4 linked regions of the Homo sapiens genome follow. The protein of the gene in region 3 interacts with the protein of the main gene of each other region in a pairwise test. Each region holds a gene or a part of one and is shown on either strand. Other genes may lie near its edges.

What was found. Proteins that work in one complex are often made in the same cells at the same time.
Region 1: the proteins of MNDA (region 3) and TOR1A interact in binary tests that used the Homo sapiens proteins (3 or more experiments, as listed by UniProt).
Region 2: the proteins of MNDA (region 3) and A2M interact in binary tests that used the Homo sapiens proteins (3 or more experiments, as listed by UniProt).
Region 4: the proteins of MNDA (region 3) and SETDB1 interact in binary tests that used the Homo sapiens proteins (3 or more experiments, as listed by UniProt).

Annotation. Positions count from the first base shown.
Region 1 is NC_000009.12:129,816,790-129,821,136, forward strand, and holds part of TOR1A (torsin-1A precursor), read right to left. Parts: intron 2,132-4,347; coding exon 1,956-2,131; intron 1,859-1,955; coding exon 1,731-1,858; intron 1-1,730. UniProt on the Homo sapiens protein: Protein with chaperone functions important for the control of protein folding, processing, stability and localization as well as for the reduction of misfolded protein aggregates.
Region 2 is NC_000012.12:9,073,573-9,077,919, reverse strand, and holds part of A2M (alpha-2-macroglobulin isoform a precursor), read left to right. Parts: intron 1-62; coding exon 63-219; intron 220-499; coding exon 500-574; intron 575-983; coding exon 984-1,164; intron 1,165-3,136; coding exon 3,137-3,360; intron 3,361-4,347. UniProt on the Homo sapiens protein: Is able to inhibit all four classes of proteinases by a unique 'trapping' mechanism. This protein has a peptide stretch, called the 'bait region' which contains specific cleavage sites for different proteinases.
Region 3 is NC_000001.11:158,833,554-158,838,747, reverse strand, and holds part of MNDA (myeloid cell nuclear differentiation antigen), read right to left. Parts: intron 1-5,194. UniProt on the Homo sapiens protein: May act as a transcriptional activator/repressor in the myeloid lineage. Plays a role in the granulocyte/monocyte cell-specific response to interferon. Stimulates the DNA binding of the transcriptional repressor protein YY1.
Region 4 is NC_000001.11:150,953,863-150,958,209, reverse strand, and holds part of SETDB1 (histone-lysine N-methyltransferase SETDB1), read right to left. Parts: intron 1-4,347. UniProt on the Homo sapiens protein: Histone methyltransferase that specifically trimethylates 'Lys-9' of histone H3. H3 'Lys-9' trimethylation represents a specific tag for epigenetic transcriptional repression by recruiting HP1 (CBX1, CBX3 and/or CBX5) proteins to methylated histones.

The DNA.
Region 1 (4,347 bases), on a different chromosome or scaffold from region 3:
CAAGGCAAGAAACTATCCAACATGTTACAAAATACTTGTCTTTCCTCAGTAGTATTCCACTTGCACACACTGACATACTGTACCCCATGCTGTTCACTAACTGTAGGATTAATTTCTTGGCAAGTCTGTTTCAAATGAGCCCTTCTGTTTTGTCATCTCCAGAACCTGAAGCGCAAAGACTTGAACAGCCAGCCCTGCACAACTCACAGGTCTTAGCCAGTGAGTCAGCCTCCATCAGGCTGGCTTTCCACCTCCCCAGGTTCAAGGTCAAAGGTCTCATGACATTTGGAGAAGTAGTGAGCTAAAACTTAAAAGCTCAGGTTTTAGAATCAGAGATACCGAACAGGCTGCATGGCCCTGGGCAAGCTGCCACATCTCTGAGTCTCAGTCTCTACCCTGCGAGGTATGGTGAAGACTGAGTGAAATCCGCAGGCAGGCTGTTTCACACGGTGCCCAGTACAAAATAAGGGCCGAACCGCTATTTGGCTGTTGCTCTTGGGCAATGCAGAGAAAGGGAGGAACTAACAGGTCATCTCTCCCCCTGAGCTGCCCACGGCATCCTTCCTTGCTCAACCACTGGCTCTTTCTTCTACAAAGAAAATCATGTAGCTGAAGAAAATGGGGGAACTGGCCAGGCGTGGTGGCTCACGCCTGTAATCCCAGCACTTTGGGAGGCCGAGGCAGGCGGATCACGAGGTCAGGAGATAAGACCATCCTGGCTAACATGGTGAAACCCCGTTTCTACTAAAAATACAAAAAATTTGCCGAGTGTGGTGGCAGGTGCCTGTAGTCCCAGCTACTCGGCAGGCTGAGGCAGGAGAATGGTGTGAACCTGGGAGGCAGAGCTTGCAGTGAGCCGAGATCGCGCCACTGCACTCCAGCCTGGGCAACAGAGCGAGACTCCATCTCAAAAAAAAAAAAAAAACAGCAGGCCAGGTATGTAGCTCATGCCTATAATTCCAGCACTTTGGGAGGCTGAGGCGGGAGGATGACTTAAGTCCAGGAAGTCAAGACCAGCCTGGGAAACATAGGAAGACCCAGTCTCTACCAAAAAAAAAAAAAAAAAAAAAAAAAAAAATTAGCCAGGCATGGTGGCGCAAGCCTGTGGTTCCACCTACATGGGAAGCTGAGGCTGGAGGATCACTTGAGCCTAGGAAGTCAAGACTCCAGTGAGCTGAGATCACACCACTGGACTCCAGCCTGGGTGACAGAGTGAGACTCTGTCTCAAAAAATAAGCTGAGCACAGTGGCTCACGCCTGTAATCCCAGCACTTTGGGAGGCCGAGGTGGGCGGATCACCTGAGGTAAGAGTTCAAGACCAGCCTGGCCAACATGACAAAACCCCATCTCTACTAAAAATACAAATATTAGCTGGGCATGGTGTGCACCTGTAATCCCAGCTACTCAGGAGGCTGAGGCACAAGAATCGCTTGAGCCCGGGAGGCAGAGGTTGCAGTGAGGCAAGGTTACGCCACTGCACTCCAGCCTAGGTGACAGAGTAAAACTATCTGAAAAATAAAAATAAAACAGCACTTGTCAAACATTAGTGTTCATAAAAGTTACCTGGAGTTCATCAGCAAAGATTCCCCTCATGACTCGGAAGGGGACTGAGAATCTGCATTTCTTTCTACCCAGCTCCCAGGTGATGCTGACAGTGACCCTGATGCTTTTAACACTTAGGGTGCAGGATTAGGAACCAGATGGGACTGGCGGTGGATGGCCCTACTCACTGTTCTTGTTATTGAAAACCGACACAGACAACGCGTGTTCAATGTCTTTGAGCTTGATGTCTTCCCTCTGCTTTCCACTCCTCCAGAAATCCAAAGCCACATCTGTGATCCTTTCTGCTCCAGCATTGCTGCAAAACAATCCCAGTGGGTAAGGACAGGGTTTTCTCCTGGAGCTCAGAGGCTTGGGCTCGGGGCCCATCCATCATGTCCTAGCCCTGACCTTACCTGAGAAATATGAACATGGCTTTCTGGTAGGAGACCCCATCCACCAGGTCATAATAGTCGAGGAAAGGCTTGATGGCATCTATGAGGCCTGCATGCATCTTATCCATTTCATCAAATATGAAGATGGACCTCGCACAGGCACTCACGTTGCCTCGAATCCACAACTGTAACTGATCCTGAATTAAAAGGGGAAAAAGCGAACACAAAGTTCTCAGCCAGGGCCATCAATCAGCTCCTTCTACCACTAAGAACCGCAGCTTCACTTACAGACCACTGTGCACTCGGCACTAAGAACTTTACATGCCCAAAATCTTCTTTGTTCCTACCAACCCCATGGAGTGGGCACTATCGTTCTCATTTTACAGATGAGGGAACTGAGGCACAGAGAGCGCTTACTCCACTTGCCCAAGACTATATGTGGCAGAGCTGGGACCTGAACCCAGTCCTGTCTCACTCCAAAGCCCGATACTTTGGTTACGGTTCCCGCACTGCGAGATGCCACACGGATGCTGTCAGAGATGCTGCTCTTTTGTCATCAAAGGGGCAATGTGGGATGTCATGAGGATACTGATTTTTATTTAAAAAGGGGGTGGGGTCGGGCATGGTGGCTCACACCTGTAATCCCAGCACTTTGGGAGGCTGAGGCAGACGGATAAGTTGAGGTCAGGGGTTTGAGACCAGCCTGGCCAACATGGTGAAACCCCATCTCTATTAAAATACAAAAATTAGGGCCAGGCATGGTGGTTCATGCCTGTAATCCCAGCACTTTGGGAGGCCAAAGTGGGTGGATCACCTGAGGTCAGGAGTTCAAGACCAGCCTGGCCAACATGGTGAAACCTGGTCTCTACTAAAAAAAATACAAAAAAATTAGCTGGGTATGGTGGCAGGTGCTTATAGTCCCAGCTACTCAGGAGGCTGAGGTAGAATTGCATGAACCTGGGAGGCGGAGGTTGCGGTGAGCCAAGATCAAGCCATTGCACTCCAGCGTGGCGACAGAGCAAGACTCCATTAAAAAAAAAAATACAAAAATTAGCCAGGCATAGTGGCAGGCGCCTGTAATCCCAGGTACTTGGGAGGCTGAGGCTTGAGAATCGCTGGAACCTGGGAGGTGGAGGTTGCAGTGAGCTAAGATCACCCCACTGCACTCCAGCACTCCAGCCTGGGAGACAGAGCAAGACTCCGTCTCAAAAAAAAAAAATAATAATAATAATAAATAAATAAAATAAAATAAAATAAATAAATAAAATAAACAAGGATTCACTCAGACCTGTTAGGCTCCAGCAGCCAAGGTTTCTCACTCTGGTGACCAAACTTATATGCAATAACAGGGAACATGCACTGAGTGTTCACTATGGGAACAACAATATTCTAAGCACTGTTCATATAACTTTTTTTTTTTGACAGTCTCGCTCTGTTACCCAGACTGGAGTGCAATGACATGATCTCAGCTCACTGCAACCTCTGCCTCCCAGATTCAAGCGATTCCCTTGCCTCAGCCCCCTGAGTAGCTGAGACTACAGGCACCTGCCACCACGCCCAGCTAATTTTTGTATTTTTAGTAGAGATGGGGTTTCACCATCTTGGCCAGGCTGGTCTTGAACTCTTGACCTTGTGATCCACCCGCTTCGGCCTCCCAAAGTGCTGGGATTACAGGCGCGAGCCACCACACCTGGTCTGTTCATAGAACATTTTACTGTGACCTCCCAAAACCCATCACGGTAGTTACCATTGTGCTCCTTCTTTTACAAATGAGAAAACTGAGGCACAGACAAGTGAAGTAACTTTGCCCAAAGTCACAGTTATTGTTAGTGAAGCCTCAATTCTAAGATGATCAACTTATCCTGATTCGTCTAGAATGGTTCTTGTTTGTTTGGGACAGGGTCTCACTCCGTCACCCAGGCTGGACTGCAGTGGCTGTCTGCTCACTGCAGCCTCGACCTCCCAGGTTCAAGCCATCCTTCTGCCTCAGCCCCCTAAGTAGCTGGGACTACAGGTGCATGCCACCATGCCTGACTAATTTTTTTGTATTTTTTTAGTAGAGATGGGGTTTCACCATGTTCCCCAGGCTGGTCTGGAACTCTTGAGCTCAAGGGATCAGCCGGTTTTGGCTTCCCGTAGTGCTAGAATTATAGGCATGAGCCACCACACCCGTGGAACATTCGCATTTTAGTACAGAACCGCTGGACAGTGGGTGACCCACACGCTCACCCAGACAGAAGGGAAAAATGTGTTCACATTTTTCCATAGATACAGTCAGGGATAAATAACTGATTGAGGCCAGGCATGGTGGCTCATACCTGTAATTTCAGCACTTTGGGAAGTAGAGACAGCTGGATGACCTTGAGGTCAGGAGTTTGAGACCAGCCTGGCCAACAAGGTGAAACCCTGTCTC
Region 2 (4,347 bases), on a different chromosome or scaffold from region 3:
GTGAAGTGGTTATAAAACCATTTTGACAACATAAACATCATGATTGCTTCCTCCCTGGTCAGGCTCACAGCCTTTGTTCTGAAGACTTTTGCCCAAGCTCGAGCCTACATCTTCATCGATGAAGCACACATTACCCAAGCCCTCATATGGCTCTCCCAGAGGCAGAAGGACAATGGCTGTTTCAGGAGCTCTGGGTCACTGCTCAACAATGCCATAAAGGTGAATCATTCTGGAGCTAGTTTTGATTTGTCCATTATGATATCTGCAAGGATGAGGATAGGAAGTGATAATGTGAAAAATTCTAAGGGAAAGCCTCAGAGGAAAATAAAACCTGGATGGCACCAAAAAAGAGGGGATAGAACAAAAGTTGATTGTGATACTTTGCCCTATAGGGATGGATATGGGTAAGGATGAATTCCATGACACAGCAGAATAGAAAGAACTAATCAATAGCATTCTCAGAAGTTGAATTATTCAGATCTCTCTCTCGTATTCACAGGGAGGAGTAGAAGATGAAGTGACCCTCTCCGCCTATATCACCATCGCCCTTCTGGAGATTCCTCTCACAGTCACTGTAGGTACCACCCCATTCCTCTGCTGAAGGAGAGTTCTGGATGCAATGAAACTGCTGACCTGCTGTCTGAAATACTATCCTATTAAAAGCAAAGCATCAGCTTTCTTTCTATGCAATGCCAGTGCTTCCCAGATCTACAGAGAATTTGGTCAGCCCATTAAGAAAGGTTTAAATTTTCCCAGTAATTCCCCTAGGCTATTTACCACCACCACTCAAAAAAGAATCTTAAAGATGTATCTTTTGAATGTGAGAATAACAGATAAAAATAATATTATATCTATTGATAAGAATGAGGAATCGTTGGAAAAATGCGTTTGAAAAACTTCTGTGCTGTGATCCGTGTATTTGCCTGGGAATGCTAATATGCCTGTTTACATAGCTTAGTTCCCTTCTTGTTCTGCCTTCACAGCACCCTGTTGTCCGCAATGCCCTGTTTTGCCTGGAGTCAGCCTGGAAGACAGCACAAGAAGGGGACCATGGCAGCCATGTATATACCAAAGCACTGCTGGCCTATGCTTTTGCCCTGGCAGGTAACCAGGACAAGAGGAAGGAAGTACTCAAGTCACTTAATGAGGAAGCTGTGAAGAAAGGTGAGAGCACACCTGAGATCCTTCTCCTGGCCCATCCTCTGTATCAAGAACTGCATGGCAAAAATCCCTCACTCCTACCTCCTGTGATCCCTGTCTCCTCTCTTCTTTTCTATATATCATATATATTTTGTCCATATTGCATCTTATAAAATCTAGGATTTCTTAATCAAATCAGAAATCAGAAGACAAGAGGCCGTGCAGATGCTTCTCAATTACGATGGGGTTATATCCTGACAAACTCATTGTAAAGTCTAAAAAATCTTAAGTGGGACCATTGTAAGTCAGGGACCATCTCTATAGTATGCTGGTAAGAAGAGCATTCTCTGGAGACTAGCTCCAAAATGTGCTACCTATGTGAGCTTGGGAAAGTCATTAACTTCCTTGTGTTTCAGTTCCTTCATCAGTAAAATGGGGATAATAATAGTATTTACCTCACAGAGCTGTTGTAATAAATGAATTGGTACACGTAAAACACTTAGTAGAGTACATGTCACATAGCAAATCCTATAAAAGTACTAGTTATTACAATTAACATATCAGTTCTCAATATATGCCCAACCCTTACCTGGTACATTATATAACCTTAAACATAAGAAAATAATCATGGAAGTAACTCCTTGAATGAATTCTGGTATTTTAAGCCCATTTCATAAGACCAATAATGTTGACCAATCTACTCATATTCACACAGTACTTCTACATATACCATGGTCTATATGAGCGGTTGAAGAAATAGAAAATAAAATGCAAATCACAAGATGTCCATTAAAACAGTCTACCTTTTTCCTTTGACAGCCATTAATTCTTCTTAAAATGTATTGAGAAATATTTTATAATAGATATACAAAAGGGCATAAGCTATAACTAGAAAACACTGTACAACTCTCTCATAGATTAAGAAATAGAAAATTACCGACATGGGAAAAATAAATCCCTTGTGTATCACTACCACCTCCAGAGGCAATCATTATCCTGAATTTGTCGTTACAATTCCATGGATTTCCTTATATTTTTGCTGCATATGTATCCCTAACTAATATTTAGAATCTTCACATGTGTTTCATCTTGAGAGAAACAAGATTTTTATTTCTCTCTTATTCAAGAAACAAGAGAAACATTTTTGAATATTTCAGCAGCTTAGTTTTTTGTTTGTCTGCTTTTTATTTTCTAAGTTCAACACTATGTTGATGAAGACCCCTATACAAGTATGTGCAGAGTCAGCTCATTAATTTTCACTGCTGCATAATATATTACAGTCTATAAATTAGTCATAATTTACACATCGAGTTTCTCCTCATGGATTTTTTTTATGTTTTGCTATTAAAAAAAATGCTGCAATGAATACTCATGTGCCTGTTTTCTTGTGCATCTGTGTTTCTCCAAATTATGCTTTGAGAAGCATAATGACTGATTAGTGGGCTAAGCACATCTTCCCCATTGCTGAATATTGCCAAAGAGCAGTTGGCTTCCCACAGCAGTGTATATTGGTTCCCATTGTTTCACATCCATGTCAGCCTTTGGTATTTCAAGGATTACTGTATTTTTTTTTTCAATTTAATGAGTAGAAACTCTACTATTTCATGTGATCTGTGATCCTCACAAGAAACTGATAAAGACACACTTTATAGGAAATGTAACAAACTCCAGCTATAGTCTAATATAACATCATAAATAGGAAATAGCCAGACTCAATGAGACAACTGCTGTGCCATTTCTTTCTCCCACCAACCCGACTATAGCAACGATTTGAAAACATAGATAGGCATAGGCTTCTGACTCCAGCATCAATATCTGCCTTAGCTGGGCTAAAACACACCAAATTCAGATTTACATGAAGGGAAAAGCATCTACATACAGTACAGGGGATTATAATGGGCATGCAATTCTCATTTCAGCACTGGCTTGGGTACTTTCACCTTGAATTAAATATAAATATGTAGGCACTTATAAATATCTTTTTCTCATCTTTAAGACAACTCTGTCCATTGGGAGCGCCCTCAGAAACCCAAGGCACCAGTGGGGCATTTTTACGAACCCCAGGCTCCCTCTGCTGAGGTGGAGATGACATCCTATGTGCTCCTCGCTTATCTCACGGCCCAGCCAGCCCCAACCTCGGAGGACCTGACCTCTGCAACCAACATCGTGAAGTGGATCACGAAGCAGCAGAATGCCCAGGGCGGTTTCTCCTCCACCCAGGTTGGTGATTTGCCAAAACCTTTTATTTCACCTTCAGGTAGCAAAAGATTTGAATGAAAAAGAAACAAACACATCCAAGAAGAAAAAAATACAGATGACAGTAACTTGAAATGAGGAAAAGTTTTCAGTATCCAAGGATAATGGAAATAAAAGCAAATCAAAGTCAAAGAGGGCCAAAAGGAAATGCTCAGAATCCCGGCACCCCATCGCTGTGTTATTATCCATCTCCTATTTCCCATAACAACACTGCCTTCCTCAAGCAGCAGTGGAGCACCAGCAGAATGAAGGAGATGTCTCCTGCCATTCTCCTGAAAGCTCTAGGGTCTCTTTCAAACTGTTCAAAGGAACTCTACTCAAAATCCAACAACCTCTCCTCGCAAATCTCTCCATTCTTAGGTCCCCTTTAATAGGCTTTTCTCAAAACTACACATTTTGTGCTTCCCCTATTCACCTTTTTTTTTTTTTTTTTTTTAAGACAGAGTCTTGCTCTGTCACCTAGGCTGGAATGCAGTGGTGCAATCTCGGCTCACTGCAACCTCCATCTCCCAGGTTCAAGCGATTCTAGTGCCTCAGCCTCCCAAGTATCTAGGATTACAGTCATGTGCAATCATGCCTGGCTAATTTTTGTATTTTTAGTAGAGACGAGGTTTTGCCATGTTGCCCAGGCTGATCTCGAAGTCCTGAGCTCAGGCAATCCATCCGCCTTGGCCTCACAAAGTGCTAGGATTATAGGTGTGAGCCACTGCGTCCAGCCCCCTATTCACCTCTTAATACACAAACATTTATTCATCAGGAGCATAAAGAACTGTCTTTATTCATCCAACCTCCTAAATCTAGCTATATAACCATGTATCTGAACAATTCATTGATATGTACACAGCAGAAAGTTTTATCTTCAGAGAATTCGGATGTTTGCTTATATACCCTAAAACGGAAAAAATGTGACAAAATGGCATTCCATCCTATTTCCATTGTATTAATCTTTTA
Region 3 (5,194 bases):
TTATAAAGTTCATCAAGTGGGACAATATATGCATTATGTAAGTCTGAAAAGGTGATGGAAAAGAGAAAGGAATAACAAAATTATTGAGTAAATAAGGACTGAAAACTTTCCAAATTTGAGAAAAGACTAAATGTACAGATATAAGAAACCAAACAAGCTGCAACTATGATAAACTCAAAGAAACTTACACTATGACACATTATTATCAAATTACCAACACTCAAAGACGAAAAGAAAATCATTTAAAAAGCGCAAGAAAAAGGCAACTCATTATATCCAAGAAATCTTCAATAGGATTATGAGCACATTTTTCAGCAAATACTTTGTAGACCAGAAGGTAGTGGGACAATACATTTCAAGTGTTTAAAGAAAAGTCTGTCCATCAAAAATGCTATATCTGGGAAACCTGCTATTCATAAATGAGAGAAATTAAGACATTCCCAGATAAACATAAGCTGAAGGATTTCATTACCACTATATCTACCTTAAAAGAAATACTAAAGAGATTTCTTCAAGCTGAAACACAAGGATGCTAGATGGTAACTCAAACTCATACAAAAATGTAAGTTCTTGATGAAAGGTAAGTATATACATAAACATGAAACATGACTTTTGCTATTTTGATTTGTAATCATTTTTTATTATTTTATAGGATTTAAAATGTGAAAGCAAAACAATTTATAAATCAATGTTAATTGGTACATATTATATAAATGCAATTTGTAATATTAACATAAAATATGTGTTGGGGAGCTGTAAAGGAGTAAACATTTTGCATATGATTGAAGTTAAGTTGTTATTAGTTAAAAATAGATTGCTATAACTTTAGAATATCATATGCAACCTGATGATGACCACAGAGATATCTGTAGGATGTACACAAAGGAATAGAAGAACATAAAAATGTTTCACTACAGAAAAAAATCAACAAAAAGAAGTCACTAAGAGACAAAAACCTATTAAGACATACAGAAAACAAATAAAAAATGGCAACAATAAGTTCTAAGTTCTTCCTTATCAATAATTAGTTCAAATGTAAATGGTTTAAACTTACTAATCAAAAAGCATATTAAAATTATATATACATATATATCACAATGAATTTAAAAACAGGGGATCCAAGTATATGTTGCATACAAGAGGCTCATTTTACAGATGTAAGGACAAAGATAGAAAGTGAAGGAATAAAAGAGATATTCCATTGAAATATTAAATAAGAGAGCAGAGTTTGCTATACTAGGATCAGATAAAATAAAAATAACAGTCAAAAAGTGTTATAAGAGACAAAGAATATTACATAGTGTTAAAAAGGCCAGTTCACCTAGAAGATATGACAATTAGAAACATACATGCACAAAACATCAGGGCTCCTAATATATGAAACATTTACAGAATTGAAGGGAGAAATAGACAACTCTAAGGTAATAGTAAGAGACTTTAATGTTCCACTTTCAATAATAGGTAGAACAATCTGACAGAAGAAAATTTGGAAAAAATAAATATTGAAAAACATTATAGACCACTTATAGACCAATTATATCTAACAGATATATCCAAAACAGTAAAGCCAACAACAGTAGAATACACATTTTTCACACGAACATATGGAACATTGTCCCAACATATACCACAAATTAGGATGCCAAACAAGTGTTAATAAATGTTAAACGTTTGAAATCATACAGAGTATATTTTTTTATCATAATGGAATAAAAGTAGAAATCAACAGAAAGAAAACTAGAAAATTCATGACCCTGTGAAAATAAACAACACAAACAATGAAACATGTACAAAGAATCACAAGTCAAATTTAAATCCATATTTAGAGAAATTATATAGAAACACAACATATCATTTCATTAAATGCAAAGAATATGGTGATGAGGGTAATTTACAGATTTAAACAACTACATTTACAAAGAAGACTCTCAAATCAATAATCTGACTTTACACCATAAGGAACTTAAAAAAGTAGAACAAACTAAACCAAAAGCCATCAAAAGGAAGGAAAAAATAAAAATTAGAGGTAAAATTGAGATTAGAAAAATAATAAAGAAAATCAATAAAAAAAAGAGTTGGTTTTCTGAAAATGTGAATAATACTGACAGAACTTTAACTGAATTGACATAGAAGAAAAAGAAGGAGACTCAAATAATAAAATCAGAAACTAAAAAGAGAACATTACAACAGATTTCACAGAAATAAAGAGAATACTTTGAACAATTATACATCAATAAGTGGGATAACCTAAATGAAATGGATAAATGGATAAATTATTAGAAACATACAACCTGCAAATTTTGAATCATAAAGAAATAGAAAATCCGAACAGTCATTATGACTAGTCAGGAGACTGAATCAGAAGTCAAAAACCTCTCAATAAAGAAAAGTCCAGACTAAGTGGTTTTACTGGTAAATTCTACCAAATATATAAAGAAGAATTAAGACCAAAATTCCTCAAAGTCTTTCAAAATTTGAAAAGGAGGGAACACTTCCAAACTCATTGTATGACTCAGCATTACTCCAATGCAAAGCCAGACAGAGGCACTAGAAAAATAAAATTTTCTAAACAATATCCCTTATGCATGTCGATGCATTTTTTTTTTACAAAATGCTAGCGAACATAATTATATAGCACGTTAAATTTATTTATGCATCATGACCATTTAAGGTTTATCCCTGGAATGCAATGATGGCTCACCATGCAACAATCAATTAACACTCTTAATGGTAAAAGACTGAAAATATTTCTCTTATTCCTGAAAGATGAGGAAAAATACACAGATGCTCATTTTTCACTTGTAAAAATCAATTAAGATAATACACCACATTACCAGAATGAAAGACAAAAAAAAAATGATCATCTCAATTGATGCAAAAAATAAATAAAGCATTTGACAAAATTAAATAGCCTTTCATGTTAGAAACACTCAGTAAACGAAGAATAGGAGAAAATTACTTCAACATAGTAAAGTCTACATACGAAAACACCATAGCTAACATTATTCCCAATGGTAAGAGACTGAAAACATTTCTCTTGCTCCTGAAACATCAGGAAAAAGACAAGGATGATTTTTTTGTTCACTTCTGTTTGAGATAGTACTGAGGGTTTAACACCCACCCCCCGCCCCCACCAAAAATAGGCAATAAACAGAAAATATAAAATATCCAAATAAGAAAGAAAAAAGGTAAATTCTCTCTCTTTACTGGTGATATGATCTTATATGTGGAAAGTCCCAAAGATTCTATGTAAATACTTAGAATTGATAAACAAATCCAGCAAAGTTACAGGAATCAAAGGCAACACATACAAATCAGTTGTGTTTTTATACGCTAACAACGAACAAAAAGGAAATTAAGGAAACAGTTCTTTTTCTGTATACAATAGCTTAAAGTAGTAAAATACTTAGGAATAAACTTAATCAAGGTGGTAAATTATACAACACTTTGAAGGAATTAAAGAAGGCACAAATGTACATGGGAAGGCATCTGTGTCCAGGGGTTAGAAGACTTGATACTGTTAAGGTGTCAATACCCAAGGAACTGCATATGCAATGCAATTTGCAATGTAATCTGTAATGCAAAATCCCAGAAGTGTTTTTTACACGAACACAAAAATTTGTCTTAAAATTCATGTAGAATTTAAAGGTACTTTAAATAGCCTTTTTTAATCTTGAAAACAAGAACATGGAGGTTTCAGACTTCCTGCTTTCAAAACTTGTTATAAAGACACAATAATCAAAACAGTGTGGTATTGGCATAAAGACAGACATAAAGAACAATGGAATATGATAGATAGCATAGAAATAAACCCTGAGAAATATGGCTTATTGATTTTTGACATGGACGTCAAGGCTGTTTAATGAGAAAGAACAGTCTTTTCAAAAATGCTGTTGGGCAATTGTGACATCTGTATACAAAAAGTTGAACCCTTACCTACATCATATACAAAATGTAACTCAAAGTATATCAAATATCTAAATGTAGGAATTAAAACTATGAAACTCTCAGAATAAAACAAAAGGGAAAGGCTCCATGACATTGGATTTGGCAATGGGTTTCTTGGACATGACACCGATGGCACAGGCAACAACAACAACAATAAAATAGATAAATTAGACTACAACAACATTTAATTTTTATATACATCAAAGACACAATTAACAGAGTAAAAAAGGGAACCTAGAGAATGAGAGAAAATATTCACACTTTATATATTTGATGAGTGCTTTATATCCAGAATATACAGCCAACTCCTACAAATCAACTCCAACAACAACAGAATCCAAACAGTGTGATAAAAATTGATAAACACGGTGAAACCCCTTCTCTACTAAAAATACAAAAATTAGCCGGGCATGGTGGCGCGTGTCTGTAGTCCCAGCTACATGGGAGGCTGAGGCAGGAGAATGGCGTGAACCCGGGAGGCGGAGCTTGCAGTGAGTCGAGATCGCGCCACTGCACTCCAGCCTGGGCGACAGGGCGAAACTCCGTCTCAAAAAAAAAAAAAAAAAAATTGATAAAGGACTTGAATAGACATTTCTTCAAAGGTGCTATACAAATGGCCAATAAGCACATATGAGTATGCTCAACGGCAATAATCTTTAGAAAAATACAAATCAAACCCATAAAAACCACAATGAGATATAACAATTAAAAACATACATGCACAAAACATCGGAGCTCCTAGGATGATGTTTTTTGGTACTGTCAAAAAAATAACTACAGAAAATAACCAGTGTTGGTGAGGATGAGTAAAAAAGGGAAACCTTGTACATCATTGGTAGGAATGTAAAATGGTTCAGATGCTATGAAAAAAATATGATTCTTACTCTTAAAATTAAAAATAACATTACCATATGATTCAGTAATTTCACTTCTAGATATATTCCCAAAATAAGTGAAAGTGTGATCTCAAATAAATGCATGTACATATATGTTCATTGCAGCATTAATCACAACAGAAAAATGTGAAAGTATTACAAGTGTCCTTCAATGGATGAATGAATAAAAAGAAATATGGTTTCTTACGTATTTTATGGTAAATACATGAAATGGAATATTATTCTACCCTAGGAAGAAAGAATATTCTGACACATGATACAATACAACATGAATGAACTTTGAGAACATGAAATGAAAAAAGCCAGTCACAAAAAGCACACGCTTACTGTATGATTAAACATATATGAAG
Region 4 (4,347 bases), 7.9 Mb from region 3:
TCAGGGAGCTCTTTTTTTTTTTTTTGGAGACAGAGTTTCGCTCTCATTGCCCAGGCTGGAGTGCAATGGCGCAATCTCAGCTCACAACCTCCACCTCCCGTGTTCAAGTGATTCTCCTGCCTCAGCCTCCCAAGTAGCTGAGATTACAGGCACGCGCCACCGTGCCTTGCTAATTTTGTATTTTTAGTAGAGATGGAGTTTATCCATGTTGATCAGGCTGGTCTCGAATTCCCGACCTCATGTGATCCGCCTGCCTTAGCGAACCAAAGGGCTGGGAGTACAGGTGTGAGCCACCGTGCCCAGCCCAGGGGAGCTCATATTCTATCTAATTTAAGAATTTGGGCCAGGCGCAGTGGCTCATGCCTGTAATCCCAGCTACTGAGGATGCTGAGGTGAGAAGATCACTTGAGCTCAGGAGTTCGAGGTTTCAGTGAGCTATGATCATACCACTGCGCTCCAGCCTGAATGACAAAGCAAGTCCACCCCATCTCTGAAAAAGAAAAAAATTTTAATTATTTTTAAACAACCATTAAAGGTAATCAGAGGGATCTAGCACATACCAACATTAAAGGAAGATAACACAGTTATACTAAGAAAACTAATTGTTTCAGGTAACAATGTTTTTGCTCTATTTGCCCAGTGTTAGAATTTTACTTATTTTCTTGGTATGTAAAATCAATGGAAGAAATTTACTTTGGAAATGTATCAACAGCTCAGTTAGTTCACGATTTTAGTCATATCCTCTCTCCAGATAAAGATGGTAAGAGCAGCTTCTAGTTACTAAGCATATACTTTTGTGTTTGGCATTGTGTGAATGCCTTATATATACATATTCTATCCTTAAAGCTGCCCTAATACAGGTGGTGTTTTTTCTTTTTGAGACACAGTCTCGCTTTGTCGCCCAACCTCCGCTTCCTGGGTTCAAGCGATTCTCCTGCCTCAGCCTCCCAAGTAGCTGGGATTATAGGTGCATGCCATCATACCCTGCTAATTTTTGTATTGGAGACAGGGTTTTACCATGTTGGCCAGGCTGGTCTTGAACTCCTGACCTCAGGTGATCCACCTGCTTCGACCTCCCATTTTTTTTTTTTTTGAGTCATGGTCTTGCTCTGTCACCCAGACCATAGTGCAGCGGCACAAACACAGCTCACTGCAGCCTTGACCTCCTGGGCTCAAGTGATCCTCCTGCCTCAGTCTCCTAAGTAGCTGGGACCACAGCTGCATGCCACATGCCCAGCTAATTTTTAAAACTTTTTTTGTAGAGACAAGGTCTCATCACATTGCCCAGGCAAGTCTGGAACTACTGAACTCAAGCCATCCCCCCACCACGGCCTCCCAAAGTGCTGGGATTACAGGTGTGAGCCACCATGTCTAGCTTTTTTTTCTAACTTTAAAAAAGATTATTTCCCATGTCGGTAATCCCAGCACTTTGGGAGCAAGACTCCATAGCAAAAAAAAAAAAGAGATTATTTCCCTGGTGGTCTAGTGGGTAGGGGGAAATAAAAGATTATTGAAACGTAATATACACAGAGGAAAGTACACGTAAGTCTATACAGATCAATGAATTTTACAAACTCAGCATACCATGTAACCTGCACCAGATCAAGAAACAACTTTGTTAGGTCCCTTAAAACCCCACTGGGGACATGGGGGTGTTTATGTTAATATCCTCTGTTTACAGCTGATCAAAAAAGATCAGCTCAGTAGGGGCAGGGCTGGAATTTGAACTCAGGTGTCATTATTACCACATGAAACCTTTACAGTAGCTATACTATCATTCATTCATTCCACAAAATTTAAGTGGTTACTTTTTTTTTTTTTTTTGAGGCGGAGTCTCACTCTATTGCCTAGGCCGGAGTGCAGTGGTGGGATCTTGGCTCACTGCAACCTCCACCTCGCGGGTTCAAGTGATTCTCCTGCCTCAGCCTCTGGAGTAGCTGGGATTACAGGCGCCTGCCACCGCACATGGCTAATTTTTGTATTTTTAGTAGAGACGGGGTTTCAACATCTTGGCCAGGCTGATCTTGAATTCCTGACCTCGTAATCCACCTGTCTCGGCCTCCCAAAGTGCTGGGATTACAGGCGTGAGCCACTGCGCTTGGCTTTTTTTTTTTTTTTGAGACGAAGTCTCCTTCTGTCGCCCAGGCTGGAGTGCAATGGTGCAATCTCGGCTCACTGCAACCTCTGCCTCCTGGGTTCAACCAATTCTCCCATCTCAGCCTCCTGAGTAGCTAGCACTACAGGCATGTGCCACCACGCCTGGCTAATTTTTTATACTTTATTAGTAGAGACAGGGTTTCACCATGTTGGCTAGGCTGGTCTCGAACTCCTGACCTCAAGTGATCTGCCCGCCTTGGCCTCCCAAAGTGCTGGGATTACAGGCATCAGCCACTGCACCTGGCCTAAGTGATTACTATGTGCCAGGCATTGGGTAAACTGGTGATACAATGGTTAGCAAGACAAAGAGACAGATAAGATCCTTGCCCTCATGAAGGAGCTTATATAATAGAAAAAAAGAAAAACAAGTCAACAAAAGTTGTCATAAATGCTATAAAGAACACAAACATGGTGCTCAATGAGAGAATTAAGGGAGTAAAATGACCTAGTTTTAAAGTGGTCAGGGAAGGTCTCTCTGAGGAGGTGACTTTACAGCTGAAAGCTCAAGGTTAAAGAAGATAGCCACACAAAGAAAAGTGGAAGGATGCCAAGAAGAAGGCACAGCATGTGCAAGTCTCCAGAGGCAGGCTGGAAAACACTGGTTGAACTGGATCCAGGAACTGAAAAATATCAGTGTGGTTGGAATGACTTTGGAGGGAGACAGGAAAGGGCCAAATATATAACCTAAGGTTAAGAGTCAGAATAAAATCCAAACAGCAGAGGGACTATATTATAGAGTTAAGCAGGGGAGTGATATATTATTTGTGATTATTTGAAAATATTTTTATGAAACATTTCAAACGTGTAAAAAAGATATGAACACTCATGTACCACCCAGCATTATCAAATCTAAACGCTATTGTTAGATTCAAAATTTTGTTAATAATTAAAACATACATGATACAGCAATGCAACTAAACAACTGTCTATTCCTTTGTTTAGTTTTTCAATGTTATCAGTACAAATTCATCCTATGATCTCCCCAGTAGTCTCGATCTCCTCTGAATGTATTCAGGCACCTCAGGTTTTCTGTTAAACCAATTTTCCTGAAGAAGTCGCTCCTACAGCATCTGACCTGCTCCTGCAGTGGCTCTTCTCTATGCCTAGTACACAGCTGTCAGCCTGGAAGCCTCTTTCACTGCACTGTCACCTGTCTTCCCCTTTCCTGCCTTTCCCTCTCATTTTTGCAAATATTTCCAGAAACTTTCTGAGAAGGGGAATGATGAAAAACTCTGAGGTACTGCATGTCTAAAAAAATGTATTTAGCCTACTGTAACACCAAATTGATAGTTTGCCCGAGTTTAAAATTCCAGGTTGGAAATAATTTTCCCTTAGAATTCTGAACAGATTCTCCAATTGCTATCTAGCTTCTAGTGCTACTTTCAGGGAAGGCTGAAGTCATTTCAAGTCTATTTTTTAACGTGTTCTATTTCTCTTCTCTAGAAGCTTTTAGGATTTTTTTTTCCCTCAGTGTTCTGACATTTTATGATAATGTCTCTTAATGGGAACCTACCTTTATCCTTCATTATGTTGGGACCTAACTGGCCCTTTCAATTCAGAAACAAAGATCCTTCAATTATGGGACACTTTCTGAATTATTTCACTGATGCTTTTCTCCTCTGTTCTGTTAATTATGTATTCTGATCACTAGGTTTATTAGTTCACGTGTTTATATATACCAGTTTACCATGCTATACCCCACTCTTTTGTTGTCCTCCTCTTGTTTTAGAGATAAGAGTCATGCTCTGTCACCCCAGGCTAGAGTGTAGTGGTGTGATCATAGCTCACTGCAGCCTTGAACTACTGGGCTCAAGTGATCTTTCTGCCTCTGCCTCTCAAGTAGCTGGGACTACAGGCATGCATCTACCATGCCCGGCTAATTTTTTAAAAAATAATTTAGGCTGGGCGCGGTGGCTCACGCCTGTAATCCCAGCACTTTGGGAGGCTGAGGCAGACGGATCATGAGGTCAGGAGATAGAGACCATCCTGGCTAACATGGTGAAACCCTGTCTCTACTAAAAATACAAAAAAGTAGTCAGGCGTGGTGGTGGGCGACTGTAGTCCCAGCTTCTCGGGAGGCTGAGGCAGGAGAATGGCGTGAACCCGGAAGGCGGAGCTTGCAGTGAGCTGAGATCACGCCACTGCACTCCAGCCTGGGCGACAGAGCAAGACTCCATCTAAAAAAAAAAA